Regions from separate parts of the Homo sapiens genome. Here all the other regions are linked to region 3. The links come from fine-mapping of genetic effects on gene expression. A gene starts in region 3. Each other region holds a variant in brackets. All regions are shown on one strand. Distances are from middle to middle. Region 1 overlaps UNKL (unk like zinc finger). Region 2 overlaps UNKL (unk like zinc finger). Region 3 holds the start of BAIAP3 (BAI1 associated protein 3).

Region 1 (8,173 bases), 57 kb after region 3:
GGCTCTCGCCCAGGACTGGCTCCTGAGCACCTTGGGGGGCCCCCAGAGAAATGTCCTCCCAGGGACTTAAAAAGAGATCCAGCACCACTTCCAAAACATCCATAGCGTGGTCCTGTGACCTCGTCACCAGGGAAAGTAAAACACAGGGCAATTCACATGATCTGTATTTGGTGGATAATAGATCAAAAGAAAAAGAGCAACACACAGAGCAGTGCTGAATAAAAACCCAGTAACGGGGAGGGTGCTGCTCACAAGAAAACACCCGACACAAAAGACCCAGAGCCACCTACGAGGTCACTGCAAAACCAAGCATCAAAAGCTGGATTAGAATGAGTTTCTGGCTGGGCACAGTGGCTCATGCCTGTAATCCCAGCACTTTGGGAGGCCAAGGTGGGCAGATTACTGGAGGTCAGGAGTTCGAGACCAGCCTGGCCAACATGGCGAAACCCTGTCTCTACTAAAAATACAAAAAAAATTAGCCAAGGCCGGGCGCGGTGGCTCACACCTGTAATCGCAGCACTTTGGGAGGCCGAGGTGGGCAGATCACCTGAGATCAGGAGTTCGAGACCAGGCTGCCCAACATGGAGAAACCCCATCTCTACTAAAAATACAAAAAATTAGCCGGGCGTGGTGGTGGGCGCCTGTAATCCCAGCTACTTGGGAGGCTGAGGTAGGAGAATTGCTTGAATCCGGGAGGCAGTGGTTGTGGTGAGCCGAGATCGCACCAATGCACTGCAGCCCAGGCAACAGAGAGACTCTGTTTCCAAAAAAAATGAATTGCATCCTGAAATATTACAATTCAAATGGTATGATATCTGGGTTTTGCTGCAAAGTAATGCAGAAAAAGTTAACCTTGGGAGGTGTGATTTTACTAGTTTGTCTCCTTAAGTAAAACTGTCCATAATGAAGAAATTTTAATGTGCATTTCCTAAAGATCAGAAATCCCCGACAAGAACGCGCCTGGCTCCTGGCTTCTGTGACCTAAGGGTCCTGCTGCCTGCCCTGGCTTCCTTCTGGATACCAGATTTGCCCCTCAGCCCACGGCCCAGGAGGTGCACAGAGCCCCCCGTGACTGACTCTGAAAACAGTCCCCTCCAGCTGCAAAGTCTGGAGACAGCCACCAGAGCTCCCTGCCCAGGTGCGAGAAGGGGCCTGCCCCCTCGTCCATAATCCACTTCCTCTCCCTGGCCCAGAGACCACTTTTCCTCAAGCCATGAAAAAACGGACCACAGTCCACCCCGTGAGCATCAGGGACGGCGGTAACTCCTGCACCCTACACCGCAGACCCTCCCAGCCATGCAGCACCGGGGACCCTCCCAGCAATGCAGCACCGGGGACCCTCCCAGCCATGCAGCACCGGGGACCCTCCCAGCCATGCAGCACCGGGGACCCTCCCAGCCATGCAACACCGGGGACACTCCCAGCCATGCAACACCGGGGACACTCCCAGCCATGCATGGTGCTGCCAATACCCCCTATCAATCCCCCATGGTGAGCCTGGTGACAGGGTTGCTGGAAGCCTCATGTTCTCCAGCAAGCAGCCCAGAAACACTATGGGTGATTCGAGACCTGGTGCCATCTCAGTGGCAACCCGCCCCCTATCCCTTGCACTTCCTGTCCCTGCTTCAGACCCTCAGTGTGGCCCCAGGAAGGCTGAGAAGGACCTCTTGACAGACGTTCTGGTGACCAGACATCCAGGAGCAACGCACACCTGGGAGCTCCTTGTACCCCGATGGCTTGGATCGGGGAGGGAGCCGACCTTCTCTACCAGCAAAGGACAGGGCCACCTGGGCTGTGGGGCTGAGGAGGCAGGCACCAGCAAGGGGTGAGTGACGTGGGGCGGTCTGCTGAGCTCACCGCATCCAGCAGCTATCACTCAGAACCAAAAGCTCAGGATGGCAACGCACGGCCCTCCGGGGACGTGGACACTGCACAGCCGCACGGCTGCCCGGCCCTCCGGGGACGTGGACACTGCACCGCCGCACGGCTGCCCGGCCTGCGGAAGCCCTCCCCCACCCCCGCCTCATCCCATCTCTTGGCAGCCCACCCTGTGTCCCGGGGTCTGCCCAGGTCCGTGCTCTGGGGCACGGTCCCTACACACAAGCTGCCCCTGCTCAGTCAGGCTGAGGTTCCCCATGTCCTGACCCACCAGTAGCCTAGAGGCCACCGCCCGGGTCACAGTCACCCCTGTGGATGTCCTCTCAGCTCCATGACCCCTGTGGGCGTCTCAGTCCTTGCCTGAACCCAACTCCAGAGCATCACCCAGGCCCAGAGGCCACCTCCCATGTAAGGGAGAGCTGAGGGACTGTTGCCTGGAAGGGCCCCGGGCCCACCAAGAAGCCGTGGACGACGCTGGGGTTTGCAGAGCAGGCCTGCCCCGCCCTGGGTCGGACAGGGAGTCTGTGCCCCGCACCTGTGTCTGCATAGAGCCCAAGAATGCAGAAAGCCAGGAGGCACCACAGTGCAGGTGCCACGTTTGCCCCCAAAGCAGCACTGATCTGAGGGCTGGGCACGGGCTGACCCTCGGCTGGGACAGGCAGCCTCAGGCTCCCAAAGCGCTGCCCGGCCCAGGGTGAATGCAGCACCCTCAGAAGCCAAGGCCGCCTCCTTCCCGCCTGTCTGCAGGAGGGGACTCCACCCCGGAGGCCTTCCCCAGCCTACTGGAGGCCATAAACCAACAGGGACCAGAGAGGAAGCCTCAGCCCTGAGTGACCCCCCAGACCCCATGCTGACCCTGCCCGGGAGCTGGCCAGGGTGATGCGCACACTGTGACTTCAGCCCAAACGATCACCTGAAAATCATCAACATCCATGTCACTCCTTGTACCCCAAGGCACAATGGCCACAGATGACGGGCCTGGTGTGGGAGTCCATCCACATGAGGGATGGGCACAGTGAGAGGGGTCAGACGAGAGCTCCGTGAGGATCCCGCACCTTCACTAACACCGGCACCGTTCTCCCCGTGGGGACGCCACACCTCCGCTACCACCAGCACCGTTCACACCATGAGGACACCGCACCTCCGCTAACACCAGCACCGTTCGCCCCGTGGGGACAGCACACCCCAAGCTACCACCAGCACTGCCTGCCTGGTTTTTCTTCTCTGTATTATAGTGAAATATAATATAAAATTTGCTACAGTGGCCATGGTTTGGTGTAGTACGTGGCATGAATTCCATCCACACCGCTGTGCAGCCATCACCGCGTCCACCTCCAGAACTCCTCATCTTCCAGCCGGAAGCTCTGACCCCGTGAACACTTGCCCCCTCCCCCGGCCCCGGCCCCGGCCCCCACCATGCCACCTGCTGTCTGTGAATGTGACTCCACTAGAGACCTCCTGTGAGTGGAATCACGCAGGTTTTGCCTTTCGGTAACTGGCTCATTTCAGTCAGCACAGTGTCTTTGTTATGGACCAAACGTGTCCCCCCCAAATTCCTACGTGGAAGCCTTGACCCCCGGTGTGACTAAATTTGGAGATAGGGCCTGTGAGGAGTAATTAAGGTGAAATGAGTTCTTACTCCAGGCGTGGAGGCTCACACCTGTAATCCCAACACTTTGGGAGGTCAAAGCAGGAGGATTGCTTGAGCCTAGGAGTTCGAGAACAGGCTGGGCAACCCCATTTCTAAAAAAATACAAAAATTAGCCAAGCCTGGTGGTGTATGCCTGGGGTCCCAGCAACTCAGAAGGCTGAAGTGGGAGGACTGCTTCAAGCCTGGGAGTCCCGGGCTGCAGTGAGCTGGGACTTGGCCACTGCACTACACCTGGGTGACACAGCCAGACCCTGCCTCAAAAAATTTAAGAATCTGTAAAAACACAACAGCAACAATGAAATGAGGTGTGGGGGCAGGGCCCTACGCAGCCACTGTCCTCAGGAAGAGACCCCAGGGATGCCCACGCACAGAGGGGTGACCCCAGAGGACACGGAGGAGGCAGCATCTGCACCCGGGGGGCCTCAGGAGCCAGCTCTGGACAGCTCAAGCTCGGACTCAGCCCCCAGAACTGAGAGAGTCAAGTGCTGCTGCTTGGGGATTGGTTTTGGTTTGGTTTGAGACAGGGCCTCACTCTGTCGCCCAGGCTGGAGTGCTTGGCTCACTGCAACCTCCACCTCCTGGGCTCCAGCAATTCTCTTGCCTCAGCCTCCCAAAGTACTGGAACCACAGGTGTGAGCTACTGTGCCCAACTAAAACTACCTCATTCATTCATTCATTCATTCATTCAGAGACAGAGTCTCACAGTGTCACCCAGGATGCAGTGCAGTGGCACGATCTCGGCTCACTGCAATCTCCACCTCCCGGCTTCAAGCAATTCTCCTGCCTCAGCT[T/C]CCCGAGTAGCTGGGACTACAGGCACGTGCCACCATGCCTGGCTAATATTTTGTATTTTTAGTACAGATGGGGTTTCACCATGTTGGCCAGGCTGGTCCCGGACTCCTGACCTCGTGATCCGCCCACCTTGGCCTCTCAAAGTGCTGAGATTACAGGTGTGAGCCACCGTGCCCGGCAAGTTCTGCTGTTGGAACGGCCCCATCTGCATCCTTCCCTCGCAGCCCAAAAAAGTAACACAGATGGGCTCCAAAGGGCCCCTCTTATTTCCCCGAGCACGATGTTGTGGCTTTGTTTCCAAGGTATAACACGAACGTTTCAAACAGACAAACACGGGGGTACCAGGAAAGAGCTAATTCTACAACAAGCGGACGTCAACCAGATGGCTTTGCGAGCCGAGAGTGGGCGGGACCAAGGATGCATGAGCGCTGCCCTAACGCGATGCCACGGGTCAGGCACGAGGGCGGGAAGCCTCAGCCCTAACGCGACATCAGGCACGAGGGTGGGAAACCTTGGGGGCCTGTACCTGCTTGCTGTCTTGCTCGCTGCCCCTAGGGCCACCCTCGGCCGGCGAGTCTCTCCGCTTGGCCTGCAACATAAAAAACAGTCATATGTGGAAAAAGCAGGGAGGAAATGTAAATTAAAAACATACAATTCAGGCTGGGCACAGTGGCAGCACTTTGGGAGGCTGAGGCGGGCGGATCATCTGAGCTCAGGAGTTCGAGACCAGCCTGGCCAACATGGTGAAAACCTGTCTCTACTAAAAACACAAAAAATAGCCAGGCGTGGTGGCACATGCCTGTAGTTTCAGCTCCTCGAGAGGCTGAGGCAAGAAAATCGCTTGAACCCAGGAGGTGGAGGTTGCAGTGAGCCGAGATGGCACCATTGCACTCCAGCCTGGGCAACAAGAGTGAAACTCCGTCTCAAAAAATAGAATAAAAAATTTAAAAAAGGATATCGCTTGAACCCAGGAGGTGGAGGCTGCAGTGAGCCAAGGTCATACCACCGCACTGCAGGCTGGGTGATAGAGTGAGACTCTGTCTCCAAAAAAAAATACACACACACACACACACACACACACACACACACAATATATATGTACCTATTCAGCAGTACTCTTGGTCCCTTAAAGATACACACACACACACACACACACACACACACACACACACACACACATAAGCTCTGCTCAGAATTTAGACGAATGCTATTTTTGGTTTTGTTTTGTTTTGAGACAGGATCTCGCTCTGTCTCCCAGGCTGGAGTGCAGTGGCATGACCTCCCTGGCTAAAGCAATCCTCCTGTCTCAGCCTCCCAAGAAGCTGTGAGCACAGGCATTTGCCAGTGGACCCAGTTAATTTTTCAAAGCTTTCTGTAGAGACAGGGTCTTGTTATGTTGCCTAGGCGGGTCTCGAACTCCTGACCTCGAGCGATTGTCCCACCTCAGCCTCCCAAAGTGCCTGGTTTACAGGCGTGAGCCACTGCAACTGGCCAAAGATGCCAAATCTCGAAGGTCTCATGAAACAGAAGAGATGCCTGAACCTGCTGGCTCCCTGTCGGTTCTCCTGAGTTCCATTTCTTTTCTTTTCATTTTTTTTCTGAGACAAAGTCTCACTCTGTCATCCAGGCTGGAGTGCAGTGGCGCGATCTCAGCTCACTGCAAGCTCCACCTCCCGGGTTCAAGCAATTCTCCTGCCTCAGCCTCTGGAGTAGCTGGGATTACAGGCGCACGCCACCACGCCCGGCTAATTTGTGTATTTTTAGTAGAGATGGGGTTTCACCATGTTCATCAGGCCGGTCTCGAACTCCTGACCTCAGGTGATCCACCCGCCTTGGCCTCCCAAAGTGCTGGGATTACAGGCGTGAGCCACCGCGCCCGGCCCTGAGTTCCATTTCTTACATTTGAACGTGGCTCTCTGACCTTGGGTTGGTCCGTGTGAAGGCAGGGTGCCAGCTCTGCACTCCCTGAACCAACCATGGCATCAAACCCCAAACCGAGCCATTCACCTAAGGCAGAGGCTCAGGTGAAACTGTTAAGAAATATATGAAGGGAGTCAGAGTGTGCCACCCCAAAACATGCCACTCTTTGACAAAAAGATTATTTTGAGTTGAAGGCAGCTGAGAAACAGTAGATGCAGGAGCAGCTCTCTGCTTCCTTCCTGCCTCGAAGCCGGGCGTGAATTCCCTCTGTGAAGGTGTCCTCTCCCCTCTCCACACCAGGAGGAGAGACTGCAGATTGAGGCTGCATAACCAACCTCACTGAAGTTGCTCTTACCTTCCGCCAGTCTCCCCCATAGCCTTACCTTCCTAGAAGCCCAACCCCCTCTTCCCCCCTCTTTTTTTGTTTGAGATGGGGTCTTATTCTGTCACCCAGACTGAAGTGAAATGACGGGACCTCACCTCACCACAACCTCCGTCTCCTGGGTTCAAGTGATTCTCCCGCCTCAGCCTCCTGAGTAGCTGGGATTACAGGCACCCACCACCACACCTGGTTAATTTTTGTATTTTTAGTAGAGATGGAGTTTCACCATGTTGGCCAGGCTGGTCTTGAACTCCTGACCTCAGGTGATCCACCCGCCTCAGCCTCCCAAAGTGCTGGGATGACAGGCGTGAGCCACTGCCCCCAGCCTAGTGGCAAGGATTTTTCTAGACTCTTCTAGAAGAGCCACGAACTCCACAGACTGCCCACGACCACATTGCTGAAAACTCATATCCATCCACATCCCTAAGAGTTCAATTAAACCAAAGGACACTGGGCATTGTCCTGGGAAGGCCGTTCACTTACATTTCCCGGCTGGCCGCTGCCCGTGGAGGAAGGACTCGTGAGGTGGAGGTCGTGACAGCCCCATTCATTCACCATCCCCAGGCTCTCTGCAAGGACAGGGGAGCAGCAGACTCTGAGGGCCGCTGGTGGGCGACAGTGACACGCAGAAGTCTCCGCACCACACGTCAGGGCCGAGTGTGCGCAGCCTCGTCACAATCATCCCTCAGGGGTGCGGCAGAGGACGGCTGGGCAGTGGTGGGGACACTCAGGGCAACAGGACCCTCTGGTCTTAGACCAGTTTTTCATGTTTTTAACACTAAAAGCAATGTTTAAAACGTGAACAAGAATAGCTGCCCTCCCCACTAAAATAAAAAACAAAGGAAAATTTGAGCTTGTGACCACACACACAAAACCTGGAACCCAAATCCTAGGGCTGGGAGGAGGAGGCCGTGTGGGTTCCCACTGAACCCAAACCCCAGGGCTGCGAGGAGGAAACCCACTGCAGCGTGGAGGAGGCCGCATGGGTTCCCACTGAGTCCAAACCCCAGGGCTGCCAGGAAACCCACTGCAGCGTGGAGGAGGCCGCGTGGGTTCCCACTGAACCCAAACCCCAGGGCTGCCAGAAGGAAACCCACTGCAGCGTGGAGGAGGCCGCGTGGGTTCCCACTGGGGCTTGTTTCTGCTGCTGGGAACTTATTAGGGACCACATAATCGCCAAAGCTAAGCCCTCATCCCCTGGACAGCAAACGGGCTCTGGAAAGCACAGGGTCACCCTGAGCAACCCTGCTTGAGGGTCTCTGCTGTCTCCCCGAGCTGGGGCGGACAGACCCCCTCTCTCCACAAGGGAGGTGGTGCTCCTGGGTGGGTGCCTGGCAAGATGGCAGTCTCGGAGCAAGGCCCAGGCAGTGGGTGGCAGAAGGACCCAGCTTGGATGCCCAGGAGGCAGGTGGAGGTGCCAGCCAGCCCACACCAGGACTCAGCCTCCAGGCTCAGGGCCCCAGCGTGCCTGAAGACAGGGTCCCTGCAGATTCCACCAGGCCTGGCCCACGCCGGCGTGGAGGGAGCCCAGCCTCACATGGCACAAACACCCC
Region 2 (8,173 bases), 45 kb after region 3:
TACCCGACATCGAGTCCCGCCCTCGCAGACCTCCTGCAGCCTCACTCCCCACAACCCACCCCACCCAGCAGGGAGCTGGCTGAGCCAGGCAGGGCTGACTCGTCAGGACTTGGTGGCCATGTCAGGGTGACAGCAGGTTCACCACACAGGGGGCATCCCAAAAAACAGCTGGAGAAACAAGGACTCGGCAGCCAAGGGGCCGCAGAGGGACAAAACCCCACTCTGCCGGGGAAGACAGCTGGGGCCTTTCCAGACATTTTCAGCATAATCAGCAGGAAAGGCAGGAGGGTGACTTCTGAAGAAGAACGCTGCCCTAGCCGCACATGAGATTTGTCGGGAACACAGCTGTGGGGCACGTGGCCTGCACCTCACCCCTCTGCCCAGGCCTCCGCTTCTCCTCCCTGGAAGCAGCTGGCACCAGTCAGCGCCACGGGGACCATGGGAGCAACCACAGGGTGGCGGGTGGCCCCTCGCCCGAGGCCTGGCGCTCGGCGGTCACACCCCCCGAGCCCCCCAGGGCAGCCGGAGTATCCTCGTGCCGCGGTGGTGGCCCCAGCGGAGCACAGGCAGAGGCTGGCGTGGACGTGGCGCAGCTGGCAGGTCCGGGCCTCTGAACTTCACCCCGAATCTGGCCGCGCTCAGCAGCCACACTGTGTGGAGACCGTGCTCCACCACCCAGAGCGGCAGGCGGGAGAGAAGCCTGGCTCGGGAGTGGACGGTGGACTCCAGAGGCCGCAAGGCAGAGGCCACCCCCACCCCACTCCACCGCACAGCACGACCCAGACTCAACCCTCGTCCACACGCCAGCCGTGAGGGAATTTCCGGGGCGTGGAGGCCGGGCTGTGGCGCCACCTGGCAACACTGTCCTTCCCCATCCCGTCACAGAGGCAGCAGGGCCCAGGGCAGAGAACCTGAACCCCTGGGGCGTCCGGGACGGCACACGGCGCATGCGGGAGTGGCCTCCACTCCCACGGAGACACCGTTCCAATGAAGCTTTTAGGGACTTTCGAAGGTCTTATCCAGAAACTAGAGTAACAGGTTGGGGGTCGGGGCAGCCAGGCCAAGACCCCCTGGGGACCAGGAACCCACAGTAGCATCCGAAAATGCCTCAGCCCTCAAGGATGCTCATCGGCGGAGCCAAAGGCAGGCCTTGGGCCAGCCGCACCCAGAGCCATTCACTCCTCTCCTTCCCATTCACAGGACGGTGGCGTCCCTGAGCGGACATCCACCCTGGCCTGCAGGGTGGGCCAGCCCTCCCGGTCGCTGTCATCCACTTGACGTTCTCAGGCCATGGCTGAAGAGGGCAAGACCTCAAAGCCTGACTGAAGTCGTGCTGAGCAGCAGAGCCGAGACACTGCAGGCAGTGGCAGAGGACCACGCACTGAGCGGCCTTGGACAGGTGGCTCCAAGGCTGAAAGTGAGATCTGTGGCGGGCAGGGCCTCTTCCCTCCTCCCTCCAGGGCTGGGGCGCTCCTCCTCCCTCACTCCAAGGCTGGGGCACGCTCCTCCCTCCTCCCTCCAGGGCTGGGGCGCTCCTCCTCCCTCAGTCCAAGGCTGGGGCATGCTCCTCCCTCCTCCCTCACTCCAAGGCTGGGGCATGCTCCTCCCTCCTCCCTCCAGGGCTGGGGCGCTCCTCCTCCCTCTCTCCAGGGCTGGGGCACGCTCCTCCTCCACTCTCCCTCCTCCCTCCAGGGCTGGGGCACTCCTCTTCCCTCCTCCCTCACTCTAGGGCTGGGGTGCTCCTCTTCCCTCCTCCCTCCAGGGCTGGGGCACTCCTCCTCCCTCCTCTGAGGGCTTGGGGATGCTCCTCCTCCCTCTTTCCAGGGCTGGCACACTCCTCCTCCCTCCAGGGCTGGGGTGCACTCCTCCTCCTGGCGTCCATCCTCCTTCATGGCTGGCAGCTGCGTGGCTCCAGTGTCTGCCTCTGCTCTGGGGGCCACCTCTTCCGAGTGTCTGTCCAAGTTTCTTCTTATAGGGAGACTGGTCACTGGCTCAGGGTCCCACCCTACCGGCCTCATTTTAACCTGGTTATGAGGACCCTGCAGTAGCACCCTGCGATCTGTAGCAGGGGGATACATTCCAAGACCCCCCCATGGACGCCTGATGCTGCGGATAGCACGGAACCCCTATATACCAAGCTTTTTCCTATACGAACGTCCTCATTTGCACGTCAGGCCCAGTAAGAGATTAACAAGATTAACTGGTAACATAGATTTCAGCACCGCACAGTAATAAAAGTTACCTGCGCAAATGCTGTACACTGCTGTCCTGAACCCAGACCTCGCACCAGCAAATGAGGCAGTGGACAGCGAACCCTGGGATAAGAGGACCTGCTGTGTTTCCCTGCAACGCCACGTACCTAGGTGCGACGCCTGGGGTTCAGGTGCATCTTCCCCCGCCACACCCAGCCCCCCCAACCGAGATAGAGTCTTGCTCTGTCACCCAGGCTGGAGTGCAATGGCGCGATCTCAGCTCACTGCAACCTCCGCCTCCCAGGTTCAAGCTATTCTCCTGCCTCAGCCTCCTGAGCAGCTGGGACTACAGGTGCCCTCCACCACCCCCAGCTAATTTTGCATTTTTAGTAGAGACAGGTTTTCTCTATGTTGGTCAGGCTGGTCATGAACTCCCCACCTCAGGTGATCTGCTTGCCTCATCTCCCAAAGTGCTGGGATTACAGGTGCAAGCCACCATGCCCAGCCTCAAATGCAACTTTCAGGGGACACAATTCAACCCAGGACATGGGGGCCCACCTGCAGATGCCCCTGTTGGTCCTGCCCGTCCTCCCCAGGCCCCTCAGGACTCTGTATCAACAGATCTGGCCCCTGCTGTGCACAGCCCTCCCTCCCTGAGTCCTCCCTCAGAAAGGAGACCCCCCCTCTGCCTCCACTCCCCCTGCAGCTGTTTTCTGGGGCCTCCTCACCACTCACTCTGCCCACCGCTGCCCCGGGCCCTTCCCTCCAGCCCTGCGCCTGTGCCCTGAACTGCCTCTTGTCATAGGCACCAGCTTCCCTCCCAGGCCCACCCTCCTCCCTGAGGGCTGGCAGCCTCTCCTGTGGCCTGGACCCGCCCAACACAGTGGCTCTGCAGCCCCGAGCCCAGATGTCCAGCAGGGGCCAAAGCCCTTCCTCCTCCCTGGCAAAGGATCCCTTGCTTGTTCCCATGGCCCCACTGCAGGCCCTTCCCAGACACCACGTGTGCAGGGGCTGCTGGAAGCTGGCACTGCAGGATCCCTTCCTCATGGGCTGCTCGCTCAACCCACACCCCCTGAGGCCCATGCCCAGCCTGCCTTCATGCATTGCAATAGTAACCTTCCTACCAAGAAAAGCCTCATTGCATCCTGAATCCTGACCTGCAAGAAAGGAGGAAGCTTGTGCCCTTGCGCGTGCCGGTCACCGCTTCCCAATGGGTCCTTTGCCGGGCTCCTAACCTGCTGTGCCACTGCAGGCTCAGCCTGGCTGTGCCTTCCATTCAGTAAGATCAGCCACACCAGTCCCCAGAAAGCTGCTCGGCCTCCAAGCCCTGCATGGAATGCCCCCCACTACATCCTTGCAGGTGTCAGCCTGAACCATGTCAGGGCCCTGGACAGACTCACTGAGGACAGGCACCGACCCCC[C/T]AACCCGCAGGCCTGCCCACAGCCCCCTCATGCTCCCATACGGGGGCTTGATGACGGGCAGGGCCAAGCGGTTTGCCCATAGTCAGGTCAGCCAGGCTCGGGAACCTGGACCTGCCCTCTGCACCCAAGTCCCAGGATCAGGATATGGCAGCCCCTTCAGAGCTCACCGCCCCTCACACCTGGCAGAGATCCAGAAACTCCTCATGAAAATCAAAGACGCAAAGAAGTTGGGGGACAGGAACGGAGGCGCCTTTTCTCCCCTTGGAGTGGGGTGATCCCACCAGGCTCCGTGCTAAGTCGGCAGAAGCTTCACCCACCAGCTGCAGAGTGCGCAGCATGTGGAGGGGCTAAGCTGCCTTCAATGCTCACCCGACAAACTACGGCTCGCACTCAACTCAGAGGGCGTCAGCCACCACCTACCTCAGCCAAGTCACCTGTGCTGAAGCCCGGGAAGCTGCCTGGAGAGGGGACGTTCAGGGAGCGTGTGGGTGCCCCCGAGAGACTCCGGCCCCGCTTCAAAGCCAAGTGCCCCTCATCCAAAGAGAGCACCGGAGAGGGTCCTGGAGGCTCCACCACCCCTAGGGTGCTATCTAGGGCTCACTCCCAGAAATCAAGGGGGGAGACGGCTGCTGCACCGTCCTGGCCCACTTTCTCACCCGCAGCTTCTCCCCCACCTCACCTCACTGTTTCAAGGTTAGACCCAGATCTTCTGAAACATTCTCAAAGAAAGAGCTGACCCTTGTGCAGAGGCAAAATCTAGGTGAGGCTGGTCACCTAAGCGAGTACAGCTGGGTCAGGCCAGGCTGCCTCAGCCCCGGGCGTTAGGAAACCACCGGCCCCGCTGAGTCACCGCGACACAGCCCGGCTCTGCCGTGACACAGCACATTCAAGGCGCCGCGGTCCCCCGGGGTCAGGGACACGCGAGGACAAGCTACAGACTGCTCGGAACTCAGGACAGGGCGGGGGAGCCGCCGACGCCAGGGAAATTCCCGTACCACGCGGGCTGAGTGCAGGCGGGCCAGGCCAGGACGCAGGGGTCGGCCCTCCCCCGCCCCGTTCCCCTGCCCTCTCCTGCCCCGCTCCGCTCCGCTCTCCTGCCCCGCTCCCCTGCCCTCCCTCGGGGCACCGACCCCGCCTAGCTAGGGGACGCAGGCGGCCCGAGCCCGCGCTGGGAAGCGGCGAGCGCCCGGCAGAGGCAGGTTCCGAGAAGGCGACGCCTTCGCCTCGCTCCGGGCCTCTGAGAAGCCCGGGCCCACCCCGCGGCTGTCACACCCGGCTCCGTGACGCGGGGGACGCACCTGGCGGGGGGCGCACCTAAGGGAGGGCCCGCTCCTGACCGCCGAGTAACGAGACCCGCACCTTGGCGGCGCACGGCTGCCACGCGCTGGGGCCGCCGCCAATGCTGACTCACGGTCCGCGGCCGCCCCGCGCCGCCGCCGGGGATTCAAACCCGGCCCGCGCCCCGCCCCCTCCGCGCTGGCCCCGCCCCGCAACGTGACTCGGCCCCGCCCCCGTCGCACTGGCCACGCCCCCCGCGCTGCCCTCCCCCAACCTTCCCCCCGACTCGGGCGCACCCGGTCCCCGCGGCTCCTGGCTACGAGCTGGGCGGGCAAGTGGGCGCGGGCAGCGGGGGCCAGAGGTCTTCAGGCAGAAAGCCCCAGAGCTGCCCCGCTGCCCGGCTCCTCCTGCCCTGCCCACCTGCACCTGCAGCTGCTCCGGGCGGACTCAGGTGAAACACGGTCGACCCAACAGGGGCGCTCGCGGGGCGGGGCGGCGTGAGCTGGGGCCGCTGCCTGCCCTGCAGGACCCTCCTCCCTCCCAAGTCCGCGTGCCTGCCCAGCCCCATCTAAACGCGGGGTACGGAGCTCGCAGGTCTCTCTTAATCTGAAACCTGTTCCTATGAAGTGTAAGATGAAGGAAAATGGAACCTATCAGATGGGTCTGAAATGATCCCACTAAAAATCCCTTAAATACAGAATCCGCTCATTTCTTCTATTCCGTGCTCCAGTCACAGTACACCTACAACCTGAAGGAAACTGTACTATTAACACAAGGAAAAAACGACCCAGTCTACACACCAGCTTTGTCCAAAACCCTCTACAACAGCTAATAAAATACACACGCAGCCAGGCGGGCCTACACCTGGGGCCAGACAGTCCCGGGAGCCATGGGCAGGGAGTCCCTGAGCCTGGGGCGCAGGAGTGCCCTGGGGTCAGCGGGCAGGACACTGCCTCCAGTGCCTGTGGCTAGTGCAGGGATGTAACTTTACAGCGATGTCTCAGACATGGACAGAGGAAAAAAGTGAGGCTGGCACTGGGTGGCAAAGCTCACAATTTCAGCCGCAGCAGCAGCAACAATACATTGCCTCTAACTAAGGCAGTGTCGATCCTGAAAAAAAAAAAAAATCCATCTCTTCACCTCTGAGTAGCTGGTTCAGGATTTTTTTTTTTTTTTTTTTGAGAACAAGTCTCGCTCTGTCACCCAGGCTGGAGTGCAGTGGCACGATCTCAGCTCACTACAACCTCCGCCTTTGCGGTCCAAGCAATTCTCGTGCCTCAACCACCTGAGTAGCTGGGATTACAGGAGCAAGCCACCACACCCAGCTAATTTTTGTATTTTTGGTAGAGATGGGGTTTCACCATGTTGGTCAGGCTAGTCTTGAACTCCTGACCTCAGGTGATCCACCCGCCCTGGCCTCCCAAAGTGCTGGGATTACAGGCGTGAGCCACTGCTCACGGCTCAGGAAATATTTAAGTAAATGAAAGAGTGTGCTTCAAGATCGCGAGTGACATACTAAAACAGGTCAAAAACGTACCTCAGATACGAAAGAATGGTTGGAAAAATGACTACAAATGTGCTAACTCCAGTCCATCTGAAGGTCAGCTACGCGGATGCAGCCACGCCTCTGTCAAGCACACAGGCACCTGGGTCGACTTTCCACCCGAGTGAGCACAGTCCAAGATGGTCTCTCTTGTTTGGGATTTAATTTTCCTAAATATTTTTCTGCTATGCTCAAATTCTAGCATTACTACTTTTAGGTTGGGGAAGAGAAACTTTATTTAAAAAGAATGTGTGCTTATTTGTTTAAAAGAAAAAAATAAGTGACCGGGTGTGGTGGCTCACGCCTGTAATCCCAGCATCTTGGGAGGCTGAGGTGGGCGGATCACCTGAGGTCAGGAGTTTGAGACCAGCCTGGCCAACATGGCAAAACCCCGTCTCTATTAAAAATACAAAAATTAGCCGGGCATGATGGCACACACCTGTAATCCCAGCTACTCCGGAGGCTGAGGAGGGAGAATCGCTTGAACCCGGAAGGCAGAGGTGGCAGTGAGGCAAGATTGTGCCATTGCACTCCAGCCTGCACAACAGAGCAAGAAAAAAAAAGAACCTGCTCAGAGGCCAGACCCTCATGGAGCTTTAGCCACTGTGTAGACTTCATCCCTGACCTCTGAGTTTCTGAAGGGGATGTGTGAATTTGAGGGTGTGATTTAGTAAGATCCAGGGCCCTGGATTATGCAACCCATGTATGATAGTGATCTCAAATTAAAACTAGCATGTTCTCACCGGGCCCGGTGGTGCCTGCCTGTGGTCTCAGCTCTACTTGAGAGGCTGATGCAGAAGCATCTCTGGAGCACAGGAGTTGGAGGCTGCAGCGAGCTGACTGTACCACTGCACTCCTGCCTGGGTGACAGGGCAAGACCCTGTCTTAAAAAATAAAACCCCAAAATGAACAAAAACAAACTCAGGGAAGGCCGTCACCTGTGGTGATCTCCAAGTGCTCTGTCCCTGGGCTGGGATGGAATGGGATGGGGGTGGGCACCCCAGCATATTCAACTCATGAGACCTCTCTGTTCAAGAGGAACAACATGTACGCCCTAGTTTCAAACTGAAAACACATGTGGGCTTGTTTCTGCCTGAGAGAAAGCTTAACACAGCACACAGCACTCCCACCCATGGAGTATTCACAGTTTTAAAAACCTACCCTTTACGGTGAAGCCCTAACAGGAGACATCCCACACCACATGCTTCCTCCTCCATAGAGGCTCCGAGAGAAGATGACTTCCAAAACAGGCCGGAGGGCGGAAGTTTGAGTCCTGTCCTGAAACCAGGTGAGCCCTCCATGGCAAGGCAGAAATGAGGAGCCCTTCCCTGGGCAGGGCAGCCCCATACTCCCAGCCAGTGAGGACGAAACAAACGCAAACACTGCTTGCGCCTGTGCCCCTGCCCCCGCCCCGACCAAGCCCCACCACTGGGCGCTGGGTCCATCCAGGATTCCCACTCTCCCCATGGCCTCCTGAGGGAGGGACTGGCCCTGGATTCTGGAGGGTTCTCCGGCAGGTGCACAACAGAGCCCACATAGGAACACCAGGGCTGCGAGGGGGAGATGCACACGGCCACAAAAGTTCCCAGTATTTGTGAAAGAGACCCTTTAAAAAATGCAGGTCGGGCACAATGGTTCACACCTGTAATCCCAGCACTTTGGGAGGCCGAGTTGGGAGGATCACCTGAGGTTGGGAGTTCAAGACCAGCCTGGCCAACGTGGTGAAACCTCATCTCTAC
Region 3 (8,173 bases):
CCAAATTCGCCAAATTCACCAAATTCACCAAAATTCACCAAATCTGAATCACTCTAACGAGCTACAGCATAAAATCACTTGAAAAGGTGTGTGCTGACTTGATCAGAGGCACAAAGGAAAAGAATCTCAAAGTGAAAGGACCGGTTTGAATCCTACCAACACTTTGAGAATCACTACAAGAAAAACTCCAGATGAGGCCAGGTTACAGCTCACGCCGGTAATCCCAGCACTTTGGGAGGCCGAGGCGGGCAGATCACGAGGTCAGGAGATTGAGACCATCCTGGCTAACAGTGAAACCCCATCTCGACTAAAAATACAAACAAATTAGCTGGGCATGGTGGCAGGTGCCTGTAGTCCCAGCTACTTGGGAGGCTGAAGCAGGAGAATGGCGTGAACCTGGGAGGCAGAGCTTGCAGTGAGCCAATACCGCGCCACTGCAGTCCAGTCTGGGCGACGGAGCAAGACTCCATCTCAAAAAAAAACTTATAAAAAAAAAAACTCCAGATGAGCATCCATAAGCAACTCATTGACTTGCACAGTCCTTCTGAGATTGTTAAGCAGATTACTTCCATCAGTATTGAGCCAGGAGTTGAAGTGGAAGTCACCATTGCAGATGCTTAAGTCAACTATTTTAATAAATTGATTACCAGTTGAAAAAAAAAAACAAAAAAATACAAAAATCAGCTGGGCATGGTGGCGGGCGCCTGTAGTCCCAGCTACTCGGGAGGCTGAGGCAGGAGAATCACTTGAACCCAGGAGGCAGAGGTTACAGCCGAAATCACACCACTGCTCTCCAGCCTGGGCAACAGGGCAAGACTCCATCTCAAAAAAAAAAAAGAAAAGGAGGGACTCTGAAGCCCCCAGAGCTGGGAGGAGTCGCCTCCCAACCCCAGCTCTGCACAGAAGGATGCACACTGAGGGCCTGGCCTCTCCCTGCTGGGCCCCTAACCACAGTGAGCACAGAAGCCCATCTCGCTGGGAAGGGGCCTCTGACACCCCCACCCTCAGGCTGGTGGGAGGCGGGGCCAGGGGACAGGGTGCCATCCTCCCTGCCATCCAAGCCTCACCGCAGCAGGGGCTGTCCTGCCTGCAGGGCTCTGGCACACCAATGGCCTTTGTTTGGGGGCTTGGTAGGACCCTGTCTTGGGCCCACTTCTTTGTCCCTGCCCTGCCCTGGACCCCTCACAGATGCTGCTACTAGCACGGAGGCCTGAGAGAACTCCAGCGTGACACTGGGTGGTCACCTCCAGCCGGCCCCACCTGTGCACGCGTGGCAGCAGGACTCCCGGAGCTTCTGGTGTGGGATCTGGAGACCAGCATCTCAGGCATGAGGCCAGACTTGGGCTGAGGCCCTCCCACCCAGAGCCCCTCTCTTGATGGGGCAAGGAACAGGTTCTGGCAGTCTTCAGGGTCCTCCAGCTCCGGGGCAGGCAGGGTCCCTGGCCAGAGTCCCTGGGCTCTGACCCCACGAGCTCTCCAAGGACCCTGCCCTTCCTTGCTTGGGTCCTCAGAGGGAAGTTGGGGGCAGATTCTGGGAGGCTGTGCCTGCAATTTCTAGGGCTGCCACCAGAGGGTGGTAGCACTGGGCCCTGCGCTGTGCTCATGAGCGTGGAACAGGAGGGGCTGTCTAACTCTGCCATGGCCTCACCTGTGTGCTTCAGCGGCTTTGGCGCCTGCGTATCCAGAGCCTGGTGTTTTTACCTGCCCCCCCATCTCCGCCCCCCGCCACCGGCCCGGCCCTAAGGAGGAAAAGCTACTCTCCCTGCCTGCCAGACCCTTTCCAGCACAAAGTCCTGAGAATGTGAAAAGAGCCAGGCTTGAAAAATGGCTTTTCTCAGCTTTGCACAAGCAGCCCTGGTGCCCCAGCAGCCTCCTCAAGCTCTGACCCCGTCTGGGCAGGGGGTCTCGTGTCCCGACACATCGGTGGGAGGTGTTCCTGCACCTGCGCCATCCCCTCACTGTCCCCGGAGCACGGCAGCTGTCTGCACTCCGGTCCGAAGGCAGAGACGCCAGGGTAGCCCCTTCAGAGTGAGGCCTGGGGCTCAGGGTGGGGAGGGTGGGCGGCCCACTCTCCTGCCCTCTCTCTTAGTGGGAGGGGACTCACGCGAGGATGGGCTTCCAGCCCCAAGCTATGGAAAGGTAAATTGGGTCACTGGAGGGGCCGGAGTTCTGGCTGGGTGGCTGCAGTTCCCATCCCCACCAACTGGGACTGAGGCTGACCTGCTGTGAGTTGAGACTGGCTCACTGAGGTCCCCCAGCTGCACCCAAGGTGGGTGCTGCTGTTGTCCCCATTTTACAGAAGAGGGAAACTGAGGCCCGGGCAGTGGAGGGTCGCCCTGGGGCAGGGGTGAGCAGGGTGCTGGGACTTTGATCCAGGTCAGCCTGTCTTCAGCCTCAGAACAAGTTGGAGAATGAAGGCCTTGGTCACTGAGTGGGGTGTCGCTCGGATCGTTCATTCCTCGACTCCTCACCAAATGTTTGTGGAGGGGACAGTCCTAGTGACCGTCCTCTCCTGGGGAAACGGAGGCCCAGGGCTGGTTTGGGACTCAACCTATCACTATGTGGCCCTGGAAAAGCCCTTTCCCGTCTCCGGACTCCAGTCTCCCTACCTAGAAAAGAGTGGGGAGAGGTCTCCAAGGGTGCTCCCGCACCCAACGGACTGCAGTGTTGGTTTCAGGGTTGGTGCTCTCGTAGGGGCCGGAGCAGCGGCTGCCCCTCCCAACTTCCTGTTTACCGTAGCTGCAGAGCCTGTCCCTTCACTTAAAGCCAGTGTGATCACCATGGCAACCGGCCTGTGTTTGTTCCAACAGGTGGGCAGAACCTGGTGCAAGACCGCAGAGGCAGGGGCGTCACTCCCAGACCCGGTCTCCAGACCCACCAGCCCCTCAGGAGAACACTGCTACAGAGTGGGGCTGAGGGCCCAGGCCCCCTCCCCTGCTTCCCCCACCGCGTCCCTGTCCCAGCCAGTCCCTGCATTTCCTGCAAGCTCCCTGCCCTCCCCCACCGGCCTGGCTGTGCTGGGTCAGGATCCGGCAGAGCCTGGGCCGAGCGTCCCGAAGGAGAGCCCACCCAGGGGTCCTGCCCCCGATCCTGCACAGACAGGTGTGGGGCGGGCATGGATTTGAGTGAGTTGGGATCCAGAAGCCAAGACAGTTGTTGGCAGACGGGCCCCCTCCCTTTGAAGAGCTGTGTTCTGGAAGCCTGTCTGGCCTTGGGCTGCCCAGGTGCCCTTCGGGTGAAAACTCCAAAGTCTGACCACCCCCCACCCCTTGTCCCCAAAGGGCTGCGAGTGTCCAGCTGTATTCGACCAAGGGCAGGTGCGACCGGGGGGCCGCTGCGCCCTCGGCAAGTCTGAGAGCCTCAGGCCCCCGACAGGACCATGCTTAGCACGGACTTCTCAAAGTGTGGTCCCTGGACTGGCGGCAGCAGACTGGAGCTGGGAAGTGCAGGCGCTGGCTGGCGTGGGGACCACACCTGTGATCTCAGCGCCTTAGGAGGCCGGGGAAGGGGGATCCCTTGAGCCTGGGAGTTTGAGACCAGCCTGGGCAACATAGGGAGACCCCCATCTCCACAAAAGAAACCAAAAAACATTAGCCGGCGGGTGGTCCCAGCTACTGGGGAGGCTGAAGCGGGAGGACCACTTGAGCCGGAGAGTTCGAGGTTGCAGCGAGTGGAGATGGTGCCACTGCGCTCCAACCTGGTTGAGAGCTATTTTTGAGAGCTTTTTCGAGACTCTGTCTGAAAAAAAAAGGGAAAAAACGCAGATCGCGCCCCCACCCAGACTTCGGGACCAGCGGGTTGGGGACAGGACCCATCAATGCCTTAACAAACCCTGCAGGAGACCGCGGGCCCGCTGGGGTTCCAGGACAGCGCAGCGGAGGAAGAGCGGGGAGCCACCCGGGAGGGGCTGGCGGGGTCCAGTGCAGACCCCAGGGGCTCCGGGGGCTCTGGCCGGCTGTGACCCCACAAGCGCCAACTGGGCCCTCACCAGAGCCCCAGGGACGATCGCCCCACAGACCGTCCGCGTGGGCGTGGGGCGTCCCGAGTGGATCCCTGCAGGACGCATCCCCGCCCCGAGAAGAGAGCGGCGGGGCCCGCGAGGTGTCCCTGAGTCAGGCCCTTCCAGAAAGGTCTGCACCGCTGCTGGTCTTCGTGACCGTGGCTTCCCTGGGGTCCGCGGAGGAGACCCCGCCGACCACCCCCTTCTAGACCCCACGCGCCACGGGGAGGGCGCGCGCGGCCAGGCGGGGTCCCGAGGCAGCCAAGCCCGCTCCCCGTCCCGCAGCCACCTGTGGGTTGACTCACAGCCCCGCATCCCGGGGGAGGGGGCTCCGGCCCGGCTCAAGGCACGGAGACCCCGGCCGGGTCCCCTAAGGCGCCGTGGACGCGGGGGGCGGGGCGAGCGCGGTCAGGCCCCGCCCCGGTCAGGCCCGGCCCCGCCCCCAGTCAGACCCCGCCCCCGCAGCGGCGTCCGCCCAGCAGTTGCTCAGTCGTCGGCGCGCGCGGCTGGGAGCGGTAGCTGTGCCTCGGCGTCCCCGAGCTGGTGCCGAGCGCAGCGCCCCAGGAGCCCCCCCATCCCCGCGCCGGCCCACGGTAAGTGCCGCGGGCTGCGGCCAGTGCTGTTGGGCCGCCGTCTGGGCTCGGCCCCGCGCCCCAACCCGGACGGACCGACGGCCGCCGCCCCCTTGGTCCGGGTCCCCCAGGAGGCACGGGGGTGGCCTCCGAGGCGGGGGGCGGTGGGAAGGTCTCGACGTCCCCTCGGCCCTGGGGAAACTGAGGCCGCGCATGCTTGGAGGGGCGGGGTCTCGGGGGCATTTCCCCTCCGAACGCGCAGGAGAGGGTGCGGCGGTGGGGTCCGCACTGCGGAGCGGACGGGGAGGGTATCCGGGCGCTGGCGACGGCCTCCCCCGCACTTGAGCCGCCAAGCGAGGCTTCGACCCCCGCGCCTCCCTCCCCGGGGGAGCAGACGGGCCCGGGGCCTCCCAGCACCCCTCCCGGGCGGGCTGCACCCCCCAGCGTCCTCGTCCCTTCCCTCCTCCCGCAGGTCCTCGTAAGGCCCTTTAGTCCCCCCGAAATCCCTGCGAGTGCAAAGCGGCCCCTCCTTCAGCCCCACTCGGCAAAGGGCTGTGGGCTCTTGCCTGGGCCGGGGTCTCCGGGGGAGGAGTTTAAAGTGACACACTAGACCCGCCCCCAGACTCACCCCGGACCGCCCGCCCCCTCCGAGGGGAGAGACCCCCATAGAACTGGGGGTGTGGCTCCTGCGGGCGCCCGGGGCCCCGGGAAAGGGGGTGCCGCGAGGCGGGGCAGGGAGGGGGTCGGTGAGCAGAGGGAGGAGGGAGCGCTGCGCAGACACGGGCGAGGGGAGGAAGAAGGCGCCTCGGGCTCCGGTCTCCTGCGCTCCTGCTGGGCGCCAGCGGCTGGACCTTGGCAGCCGTCTGAGGCTTCGGGGAGCCCAAGGCCACCGGCAGCGCTTGTTAGAATGCAGATTCCCGGGGTTCGACTGGAATGAGACCCCGGGGAGCAGCGTTTGCAGCGGGCCCGCCAGGTGACCTGCACCTGGGCACCGCCATCGGCTTCGCAGGGGCCATCTGGAGGAGTCGGTGAGACCAGGGAGAGATTCCTGCGGGAAACCCCCAGGGCCTGGTGAAGGGGAGTCGGGGGGCTGAGGGAGGAAGAGCAGGGAAGCTGGAGAGAAGACCAAGAGGGCAGCGTGGAGAGCCAGCCTGTGGGGCAGATGTCCTGCCACCTCCCGCCCCAGGCACACACCCAGGGCACCATCAGCTAACCCCCTGCCCCAAATGTGGTAAGAAGGGCGCCCCCAACACGTTGAAGGCGTTTGTTCCTAGACAGCCTGCACTGGGGAGGAAGGCTGACCCAGCCTCTGCTCCGCTGCCCCCAGACTCAGCTGCCTCACTGCCCCCAACCCTGAGCCCCCAAATGGCCTGGCAGGAGACAGCTTGGCTTAAGAGTCCCAGGTTCACATCTGGGCTCTGGGCAAGTCGCCCCCACCCTGGGCTGTGAAATGAGATGTGCCATCCTCCTTGCAAAATGTCATTCCCCATTCAGCCCAGGCCTGGGGGACAGCCAGGGAGCAAGGTGGGATGGGCAGGTGTGGCTCAGCCCCAGTGCCACAAGGCAGGAGCTCCTTGGCGGTCCTCCCTCTGCTCACTGGACAGATGGGAGTGTGGTTCTGGTCCTGGCATCAGGCATGAGCAGAGTATGGGGGGGTTCATCCTGCCTCATGCTACTGTCCCAGGGTGAGAGACTGGGAAGGAGTTACATCACGTCTGGGCCCACGGGAAAGACGGGGGGTCCCCTGCACCTGGCTCACTCCTGCCCCGTAAGTGCTGAGAGCCACCCAGGCAGCCAGTGCTTCCTGTACTGGTCACAGACAGATGCATATGCCCACCATTCACAGCAGCTCCGGCCTCTGTGGCAGGTGGCTCCCAGGGCCCACGCAGTTGGCTGCAGCCAGGCTATCAGCTGCCCAGGAAGCCTGGGGTTTCCAGGGGAACCAAAGGGGTTTCTGCGCACCCAGGATGAGCCAAGTCTTCTGTACACCTGTGCCAAGACGCCATTATTGCACCCATCCTAGCAACGGGCAGTGGGAGGGGCAGGAGCTGCAGTTGGGGTCAGGGGGGCTGGCCTAGCTGGTTGCCCCAGGAGCTTAGCACTGGGGACACCAAAGAGACCTTGACTGCCGTCCCCAGCCCACTTGCTGGCTCTGGGACCTTGGGCGGGCTCCCAGCCCTGCGCCTCCGTTTGCCCATCTGAGATGCAGGGAGCAAAGGGCACCCCTCTCGGGCCGCTCTGGGGATGAGGAGGTGAATGTGGAGAGGAAAATGCAGGGAGGGTACCGAGCCCCCTTTTTCTGCCTGGAACATCTTGTTATCACAAAGACACCCCCTCCCCAACCCCGCAGTTCAGGCCACTTGGCTCCTGCGTCACATTTGTCTCCAGGACTGCGAGCCCCCATCGCCCCTGTCACACGCACATGCCGCGGCGGTTGCCCTGGCAACAGCTCCAGCAGCGGCTGCTCCACTGGCTTCGGGGGACAGCAGGGGGAGCAGCCTCTTCCACCCAGCAAGGGAGGGGAAGGGGGCTTGTGACTCCCAGGCCCCTGAGGATTTCACGACTGGCTGTGGGGGTGACAGCTTCCAGAAGCACTGTACCCAGCCTACCAAGCCCCCCCATCTTTTGGGGGGGAGGCTCACAGGGGAAGGCACTGATAGGTTTGAAGGAGGTGAGTCCCCCCCGCAAGCATTGCCTCTCACAGGGTGGGAGACGCAAACCCTCCTTCCTGTCCTCAGCTCTAGGGTCTGGTCCCGTAAGAGCCTGCACCCAGGGCTCGGGGGCTGGCAGGGACCCTGGAATCAAGACGAGATATCCGGGAATGGTGTCTGAGCTGGTGTGGGTATAGCTTGGGGCTGGTGACCCTGAACCCCCACAGACACAGCAGGGGCCCGGGAGCTGGCTCGACAAAGTCCGTTTGGAACCCACCACTGGCATGGTGTGCTCAGGCCCCCACGCTGCCCACTGAGCTTATGAGTCTAGTGCCACTGTGGGGAGCTGGCCTGGCATGCAGGGCCAACTGTCCGTGAGAGCCTGAGTGGGCGGTAGAACCTGCTGGTCTTCGTTTCCTCTCCTGTCCCGTGAGAATGACTATGCCCTTTGCGAGGGCCAGTGTGCCCAGCCCGGAGGCACCCTCCGCAGGTGGATGAGGGAGCACTGGCAAGGGAAGGGACCCAGACAGCAAGGCCAGGACCCCGGGGGGCTGGGGGAGCGCGGTGTCCTAGAAATCAGAGGCCGGCAAGGCTGGGACAGGAACCCAAGAGTGGGTACCTCTCTTGTGGTGGGGCAGAGGTGGCCTGGCTCTGGGACAGTTTCCATGGAGCGGGGAGGAGACCTCCCTGGGGCTGCTGGGGGGCAGAGGCAGTGCAGAGGTGGAGGGTCTGCACCTGCACCCATGCAGAGGAAGAGGGTCTCAGGAGGCTACGGTGTCTTAGCCATCATCCTACCCCTGTTGAAGGGGGTGTGCAGGGCAGGACCACCCGGCCTTCCTCCCTGACACAGGTGGGCTGGGCGGTGCTGGCTCATGCCTGTAATCCCAGCACTTTGGGAGGCCGAGGCTGGTGGATCACCTGAGGTCAGGAGTTCAAGACCAGCCTGGCCA

Evidence for each region. PIP is the estimated chance that this variant, and not a neighbour inherited with it, causes the effect.
Region 1: its variant is fine-mapped to the expression of BAIAP3 in whole blood (INTERVAL, PIP above 0.99).
Region 2: its variant is fine-mapped to the expression of BAIAP3 in whole blood (GTEx, PIP 0.99).

What each region holds. Positions count from the first base shown.
Region 1 is chr16:1,385,788-1,393,960 of GRCh38, forward strand. It overlaps UNKL (unk like zinc finger), which reads right to left. Exons shown (of 15, transcript NM_001372107.1): 8 at 7,104-7,189; 9 at 4,845-4,907. Among named protein-coding and RNA genes, the nearest start is that of UNKL-AS1, 19 kb to the right of the region's middle. The variant T/C (reference allele first, on the strand shown) is at 4,321.
Region 2 is chr16:1,374,622-1,382,794 of GRCh38, forward strand. The region is part of intron 10 of UNKL (unk like zinc finger); the gene reads right to left. Among named protein-coding and RNA genes, the nearest start is that of GNPTG, 27 kb to the left of the region's middle. RefSeq lists an enhancer at 551-1,050 and silencers at 4,672-4,741, 4,812-4,861, 4,902-4,981, 5,012-5,151. The variant C/T (reference allele first, on the strand shown) is at 3,614.
Region 3 is chr16:1,329,157-1,337,329 of GRCh38, forward strand. BAIAP3 (BAI1 associated protein 3) reads left to right here and starts at 4,489. Exons shown (of 34, transcript NM_001199097.2): 1 at 4,489-4,593. It also overlaps the pseudogene RPS20P2. RefSeq lists an enhancer at 2,617-2,666 and silencers at 3,443-3,643, 4,379-4,538.